Regions from separate parts of the Homo sapiens genome. Here all the other regions are linked to region 1. Evidence: fine-mapped expression QTL. A gene starts in region 1. Each other region holds a variant in brackets. All regions are shown on one strand. Distances are between the middles of the regions.

Region 1 (2,854 bases):
CTTTCAGATGGAAACAGCCACGCATTTCAAGGCAGTCTCAGAACTCCTGAAAACCACCGGAGGGCGCCGCTGCTCCGCCCCATTTTCAGGTGCGTTTTTTTTTTTTTTAAATACTTTTTTTTCTCTCTTTTCTTGTAGAGAGGAGCCTCACTGTGTTGCCTAGGCGATCCGCCCGCCTCGGTCTCCCAAAGTGCTGGGATTACAGGTGTGAACCACTTGCACTCAGCCATCGGGTGCGAATTTTCTTTGGCCCAGTAGGGATTTGAGTTTAAACTCCACACCAAACCGATTTTGAGCTGAAACGCTGCACCAAAGCAAGGGAAGATGATGAAGGCTGCCCCGAGCTGGGGGTTCAGGATGTTCTGCTTGGACTGAACTCTGCCGAATCACTTGGGACCTGCGCCTTCCCGCGGGTGCATCCGCTACAAACAATCCAGTTACGAAACCATTTGGAGCTGCCAGTGATCTCCCCAGCTCCCCTACCGGTGCCGCGGGAGGGGACACGGTGACCTGGAGGGAGCACTCCCGCATTGCGAGGGAGCCAGGGGGGCGGTCTGATCTGCAGCCCGGGGTTGTTCCTTCTTTTCTTTTTTTAAAATTAAGACTTTTTTTGTGACGGAGTCTCGCTCTGTCGCCCAGGCTGAAGTGCAATGGCGCGATCTCAGCTCACTGCAACCTCCGTCTCCCGGGTTCAAGCGGTTCTCCTGTCTCAGCCTCCTGAGTAGCTGGGATTACAGGCGCCCGCCACCACGCCCAGCTAATTTTTGTACTTTTAGTAGAGACGGGGTTTCCCCATGTTGGCCAGACTGGTCTAGAACTCCTGAGCTCAAATGATTCGCCCGCCTCGACCTTCCATAGTGCTGGGATTACAGGCGTGAGCCACCGCGCCAGGCCCTACGTATCATTTTTACGGTGAGACATTTGCAGTTTACTCTGTTATTTCGAAATACACATTATTGGCTCTAGTCACTCTGCTGTGCAACAGATCTCAGAACCTACTCCTCTCGTCTCTGAACTTCGTACCCTTTGGCCAACAAGCCCCCATTCCCCCCCGAACCCGCTCCCAGCCTCTGGCAACCATCATTCTAGTCGTTATTTCTATGAGTTCAACTTCTTTAGAGTTCACACATCTTTGTCCCTTTCCCCAAAAAAGCAACCGCTGGGCTTCCAAACTCGCTACAAGTCCAGAAGCCCTCCTGGAAAGGGTCTGGCCGCAGAGGGGCCAGGTCCCGGGAAAGTCTCGCCCGCCCGAGGAGGGGGCCTGGCGCGGCGCCCGGCCTTTGCCCGCTCGCCCTTTGCTCCCACCCTCGCCTCCCGCCGCCCGCCGCCCGCTTGCCCATTCCCGAATCCCCACCCCGATCTTTCTTCTTCTACCCTCCCCCAGTTGTGCAGTCCAGCAAGTTCCCTGGCCAGCCCCCTCCCGGGTGCAGGAAGCTACCGGGTGTCCCGGGTTGTAACCAAGCTTTCCTATTCCCTCCGGCGCGCGGCTCCAAGCTCTCCAAGGAACTGCGGGGGCGGGAGGCGTCGGGACGTCGGCTCCCAAGATCCTCCGAGTGCAAGACCCAGCGGTCATTTCGACGTAAGGGGAGGAGGTCTAAGAGCAAACCTCCTCCACTGGGGCGTCTAGAAACTTGGCAGGAAGAAAGCAAGGGGGTTAGAGGAGGGAGAAAAGGGAAGGAAAGAAAGCAGGAGGTCTACTTACAGGAGCCCGAAGGTTCCACTGCCTGGGGAAGGCGGCTGGGACTGCGCAGCCGGGCGCCCGGGGTCCGACTTATGACAGGTCCCAAGAGAGGGTGGGGCCACCCCAGGGCGGGGCTGCTTCTTTAGGGTGAGAGCCCGGCCCCGAAAGGGTCACAGGAGGAAAACCAGGGTCCGGGAAATCTGAGTGCGTTTGTGTGTGTGTGTGCGCGTATCTCTGTGTGCCTATGTGCATGTGCGCGCGCGTATGTGTGCATGTGTGCGTGTGTGTGCGTGCGCGCCCGCGCGCCCGTGTGTGTGCGTGTAGGGGGTTAGGGACTCCTGATAGGAAAATTCCTAACAGAGCTTTGTCCAGCTGACACTGGACCTCCGCCTGGGGTCCTAAGTTGGAGCCCGGCGGAAATATGCCCCGTGGGGGAACCAACCGTGGCATCTGCCAAGCAGGCCGGAAGGGTCCAAAGGCAGGGCCTGGGGCGGCCGCAGCCCTAATAAGCCCCCGGTGCTGGCTCCGATCCCTGGGCTCCCCGTCAGCCCTGCCGCTTGCCCGCAGTGCAAGCTTTCGCCCAGGGCTGCGGTGCAGACACCCTGCCTGTCTGTCCCCAGTCCGCCTGCTGAACACCTACTCGCCTTCCACCAGCCAATTCAAGGTCACCTCTGTGAACCCTTGCCAGACTCCCCCAGGCAGGAGTGAGCACTCTTGCCACTGAGGCACCCCACCCATCACACCCTAGCAAACATCAGGCCTTGACCTGGCTTCTGCAAGGAGAGGTGGTCTCAGGCAGGGGTTGAACGTGAAGCTAAGTCGTTGGTATTAGACGACTGCAGGTTCGAAGCCTGCACCTGCCACTTACTAGTGGTGTAGCTTTCAAAGACTTACTTACCTTCTCCTTGCCTCACTCAGTTCAGCCATCTGCAAGATGGGGATAAGAAGAATGCCTAACTTCCAGTCATTGTGAAGATTCAATGTCTTTAATTTATTTATTTAATTTTAATTATTTTGAGGTCTTGCTCTGTCACCCAGGCTGGAGTGCAATGGTGGGCATCATAGCTCATTGCAGCCTTGAACTCCTGGACTCAGGTGATCCTCCTTCAGCCTCCCTAGAAGCTGGGATTACAGGCCCACCACCACACCTGGCTCAATGTCTCTCCTTGTAAG
Region 2 (2,500 bases), 21 kb before region 1:
CTGGGTGTGGTGGCTCACGCCTGTAATCCTAGCACTTTGGGAGGCCGAGTTGGGAGGTTTGCTTGAGCCCAGGAGTTCCAGACCAGCCTGGGCAACATGGCGAAACCCCATCTCTACTAAAAATATAAAAATTAGTTGCGTGTGGTGGCACATCCCTATAGTCCCAGCTACTTGGGAGGCTGAGGTGGAAGGATTGCTTGAGCGAGGGAGGTCGAGGCTGCAGTGAGCCACGATCACACCACTGCACTCCAGCCTAGGTGACAGAGTGAGATCCTGTCTCAAAAAACAAAAAAAAGGAATAAAGCACTGATAAATTCTATGATATGGATGAAACTTGAAAACATTTTGCTAAGTGAAAGATGCCAGTCATAAGAGACCACTTTTAGTGGGGAGGAGGGTGGTAATGGAGAGTGACTGCTAATGAGTAGCGTTTTTTGGGGGGGGTGATGAAAATATTCTTAAACTGGTTGTACAATTTTGCCAATATAGTAAAAAACATTGACTTCTACACGTTAAATGAGTGAATTACATGGTACATGAATGATATCTCAATAAAGCTGTTTTTTAAAAAAGGCATATATACTTTCTTCATGTACCCCAAAATGGAAACTCTAGGAATATATTCCCTTGTATCAGCGGTCCTCAACCTTTTTGGCACCAGGGAGCAGTTTCATTGGAAGACAATTTTTCCATCGATTGTTGGGGGGATGGTTTCAAGGATGATTCAAGTACATTGTGTTTATTGTGCACTTTATTTCTATTATTATTGCAATGTAATATACAATGAAATAATTATACAACTCACCATAACCATAGAATCAGTGGGTGAGTTTTCCTGCAACTAGACGGTCCCATCTGGGGGTGATGGGAGACAGTGACAGATCATTAGGCATCAGGCATCATCAGGCACCTGAGTAGTGCGATCTCCATAAGGAACGCACAACCTAGATCCCTCACATGCATAGTTCACAACAGGGTTTACACTTCTATGGGAATCTAATGCTGCCACTGTTCTGAGAAGAGGCGGAGCTCAGGCAGTAATGGGAG[C/T]AATGGGGAAGGGCTGTAAATACAGATGAAGCTTTGCTTGCTCACCTGCCCCTCACCTCCTGCTGTGCATCCCAGTTCCTGATAGGCTATGGACCACTAACCATCCATGGCCCAGGGGTAGGAGACTCCTGCTTTATATAGTACTTCCATAATAAATTAGATATTAAGTCCAGTTTGTACTTACATTATCAAAATAACAATCATAACCATCAGGAGACGCTTTCTTCAAGGTTTCTTCCAAAGACTCTACCGTCTTGTAGTTAAAGACGACATCAAATCCAAGCTTTTGAAGGTAGGCAACCTTTTCATCAGACCCTACTGCTCCAACAACTTTGCAGCCCTAAGTAGAAAAAAAAAAAAAAAGGAAACCATGAATAAGTCACAAGCATGGACCAACACTACTTTCCTGGTCTCGTATGCCTAGGTTCCCTAGGAACACTCTCTTAGGTGCTGAGCCACATATAAAAGGAATACCATAATGGGCCAACAGATCCCATAGGTGAAATCAGTCCCCGGACCATCCTACAACTCAGCTTCAGCTTGCTTCTGACCACCCAGCAGGTCCCTTCTGCATTTATTTGGTTCATAGTTCCACCAGCTGGTTTCACAACCGATCCATTTGACTTCCTTGGTTCTTTGTTTCTGGGCTTCTCTTCCTTGCAATGCAGTGTATGCCATCTCTTGGTACAGTCATTCTTCAGACTATTATTTTGTCTCAGCTCTGTGACTCCCACATCACAGACAGCCCTCCTAGTAACTGCCCCCTTATCCTTTTTTGATTTTTTAAATGTTTATATTTTTTTGAGACATGGTCTCACTCTGTTGCCCAGGCTGGAGTGCAGTAGCACGAACATGGCTCACTGCAACCTTGACCTCTTAAGCTCGTGATCCTCCCACCTCAGCCTCCTAAGTAGCTGGGACCACAGGTGCATACCACTACATCTGGCCTTATATTTTTTAAATTTTCACAGAGACAGGGTCTCACTATATTGCCCAGGCTGATCTCGAACTCCTAGGCTCAAGTGATCCTTCTGCCTTGGCCTCCTAAAGTGCCCAGGCTGATCTTGAACTCCTGGGCTCAAGTGATCCTCCTGCCTCAGCCTTCTAAAGTGCTCGGATTACAGGCATGAGCCACTGCACCAGGCCCCCTTTATCCTTTGATTTAGTCCAAAGCACCAGACTACACGCTTCCTAATCACAGAGGAGCTAGGAAGCATTCTGAAAAGCACTTTCAGGATGACACTACAGATTATAGTGGTTCATAGAAACTAGCTTTTCAGAAAGCTCCCTTATACTCTAAATGTATTATGAAGACCAGAATATGTGCCACTGTGCATTTTCAATCGAGGAAAAACCCCAGTTGGATTTACATGAATCTCTGTACAAATAGTGACGGCCACAGGCTTTTTCCATTCCTTCATGATTCCAGAAAAAACTATTGCAAGAGAGCCCT
Region 3 (2,854 bases), 140 kb before region 1:
TAGTAGAATCCCACCTAGAGTAGGAATCCTATGCTAGGTATGTTAATAACCCCATTTACTACCACCAAAGGAAAACTGAGCCAGGCCAGAAAGCTAAAAATCCCATGTGACAATACCTCAGAGACACAAGAGCTCATCATACGGAGGCATAACTTAGTACAAAGTCATAATTACATGATTTTAAGGGGCTTTTTTAATTACTTCTAAAGACAGACCACAATGATACAACTCACAATTATAAATTCTGCTTTAAAAAACTGGTTCATTCTAAATTACCACAAATATGAACTGTATTATTTAAAAACCTCCCCACACAAAAAAATGGCAGGACCTTATGAATTCGCTGGTAAATTCTCCTTCATAACTTCTTCCAGAGAAGAGAAAAAGGTGGGGTAAAGGGATGGCAGGGGAACACATCCCTGAATGTTAAGAGGCCAGAATAACCTTGATACCAAACAAGGGTATCCCCAGAAAGATAAAAGCAAATAAAAGATATTTCTCATGAATATAGACGCAAATGAGATAATAAAATAATATTTAAATCATAATACATAAAATAAGTAAAAAATATGAGTCAAATCCAGCGATACATAAAAAGGATAATACATCATACAAAAATTGGATTTATTCCAAAGATGCAAAGTTGGTTTAATATTGAAAATCAGTGTAATCTGCCACATTAACACAATAGAGAATAACAATCATATGATCATCTCAATATATACAGAAAAGGCATTTGATCAAATTCAACATCTCTTCATGCTAAATAGATGGGAACAAACTATTCATGTTGAAGAGACAAGGAAGAAAAGAGAACTTCCTTAATCTGATAAGAGATTTTTATAAAAACTTACAGCAAACATTATATCTAAAGGTAAAATACCAAACACTTTTCCTCTGAGTTCAGGAACAAGGTAAAGATGTTCACTATTACCAATTCTATTCAAATTTGTACTGCAAATTTTATTCAGAGCAATAAGACAAAGAAAAATAAAATGCATTAAGATTACAAAGGAAGAAATAATATTTTCATTATTTAAAGATAATGATTGGTACACAAAAAATCCAAAACAATCTATGGAAAAATTAATAGAATAACAAAATACACAAATCAATTGGTTTCCTATATAATAGTAATAAACCATTAGAAAACAAAATTTGAAAACACCTATTACAATGACATCAAAACACATCGAATAGCTGGGAATTAATCTAGGGAAAAATGTGTAAGACCTCTACACAGAAAACTAAAATACACCGCTACAAGAAATTAAGGAAAACTTAAAAGATACACCATATTCACAGATTAGAAAATATTAATAAGATGTCAATTCTCCCCAAATTGACCTATAGACAATATAATCCAAGCACAATCCATCAGATAACTTGGGTAACACTAAAAAGCTGATCCTAGAGCCAGGCACAGTGGCTCGAGCCTATAGTGGTTCCAGGCCAGCCTGGGCAACACAGGAAGATACTAACTATCTCAATCAATGAATGAGTGGATGAATAATCTTTAAATGTGTGGATACCACTAGAAGAAAAAAAAAAGTTGATTCTTTCTATAATTTAAAGAAATGCAAAGGACCAAGATTTGCCAAAACTATCTTGAAGAGGAAAAACAGCTAGAAGACT[T/C]TGGTCAAATTTCAAGGCTAACTACAGTAGGCTGGGCACAGTGGCTCAGCCCTGTAATCCCAGCACTGTGGGAGGGCAAGGCAGGCTGATTGCTTGAGCTCAGGAGTTTGAGACCAGCCTGGGCAACATGGTGAAACCCCATCTCTACCAAAAAAAAAAAAAAAAATTTAGCTGGGCGTGGTGGCGTGCACCTGTAGTCCCTGCTACTTGAGAGGCTTAGGTGGGAGAACTGCTTGAGCCCAGGAGGTAGAGGTTGCAGTGAGCCAAGATCATGCCACTGCACTCCAGCCTGAGCAAAAGAGCAAGACCTTGTCTCAAAAAAATAAACACATAAAATAAAAACTACAGTAATTAAAAGTATACTATGCTAACAAAAAATAAGTAGACCACTTGAACAAAATAGAAAATGTGTAAAAGACAAACAGGTATATAGTCACCTGGTTTAAACAGAGGTGTCACTGCAATGTAGTGAGTAAATGATGGTCTTTTCAATAAATGGTGTTAAATCAACTGTATTCCAATATGGGAGAACAATATTTAATCCCTACCTCACACCATATCTATTAGTCCGTTTTCATGATGCTGATAAAGACATATCCAAGACTAGAGAATTCACAAAGGAAAGAGGTTTAATGGAGAACTACAGTTCCATGTGGATAGGGAAGCCTTTCAATCATGGCAGAAGGCAAGGAGGAGCAAGTCACATCTTAACATGGATGGCAGCAGGCAAAGGGACAGCTTGTACAGGCAAACTCCCGTTTCTGAAACCATCAGATCTCCTAAGACCCACTCGCTATCACGAGAACAGCATGGGAAAGACTCACTCCCATGATTCAATCATCTCCCACTGCATCCCTCCCACAGCACATGGGAATTATGGGAGCTACAAGATGAGATTTGGACGGGGACACAGAGCCAAACCATATCATCAAACAAAAAGAAAATCAATTCCAGATGGATCATAAATCTAAATGTCAAAGGTAAAACAATAAAGTTTCTAGAGAAATAAAGAATATTCTCATTACCTCGAGATAGGAAAAGATATCTTAAAACAAGAAGCTAGATGGTAAGGGAGTCTGAAAAATATGATTAGCAGAATCTGTCCCAAAGAGTAGTTTATAACTGTGGAGCTGGAAATAACCGTCACTGAAAGAAACTTTCATAATCTGACAAAAAGCATCTATGTAAAATCTACAGCAAATATATCTCATACAAAATC

The links. PIP is the estimated chance that this variant, and not a neighbour inherited with it, causes the effect. A credible set is the group of variants that fine-mapping cannot tell apart.
Region 2: its variant is the best candidate, but not a certain one, in a credible set for the expression of PTGR1 in aorta (GTEx, PIP 0.78).
Region 3: its variant is the best candidate, but not a certain one, in a credible set for the expression of PTGR1 in thyroid (GTEx, PIP 0.81).

The regions. Positions count from the first base shown.
Region 1 is chr9:111,597,901-111,600,754 of GRCh38, forward strand. PTGR1 (prostaglandin reductase 1) reads right to left here and starts at 1,747. Exons shown (of 10, transcript NM_001146108.2): 1 at 1,703-1,747. RefSeq lists an enhancer at 1,598-2,170.
Region 2 is chr9:111,577,565-111,580,064 of GRCh38, forward strand. It overlaps PTGR1 (prostaglandin reductase 1), which reads right to left. Exons shown (of 10, transcript NM_001146108.2): 7 at 1,232-1,387. It also overlaps a transcript of ZNF483 not described here. Among named protein-coding and RNA genes, the nearest start is that of PTGR1, 21 kb to the right of the region's middle. The variant C/T (reference allele first, on the strand shown) is at 1,048.
Region 3 is chr9:111,459,514-111,462,367 of GRCh38, forward strand. All of the region lies in intron 2 of ECPAS (Ecm29 proteasome adaptor and scaffold), which reads right to left. Among named protein-coding and RNA genes, the nearest start is that of ECPAS, 23 kb to the right of the region's middle. The variant T/C (reference allele first, on the strand shown) is at 1,636.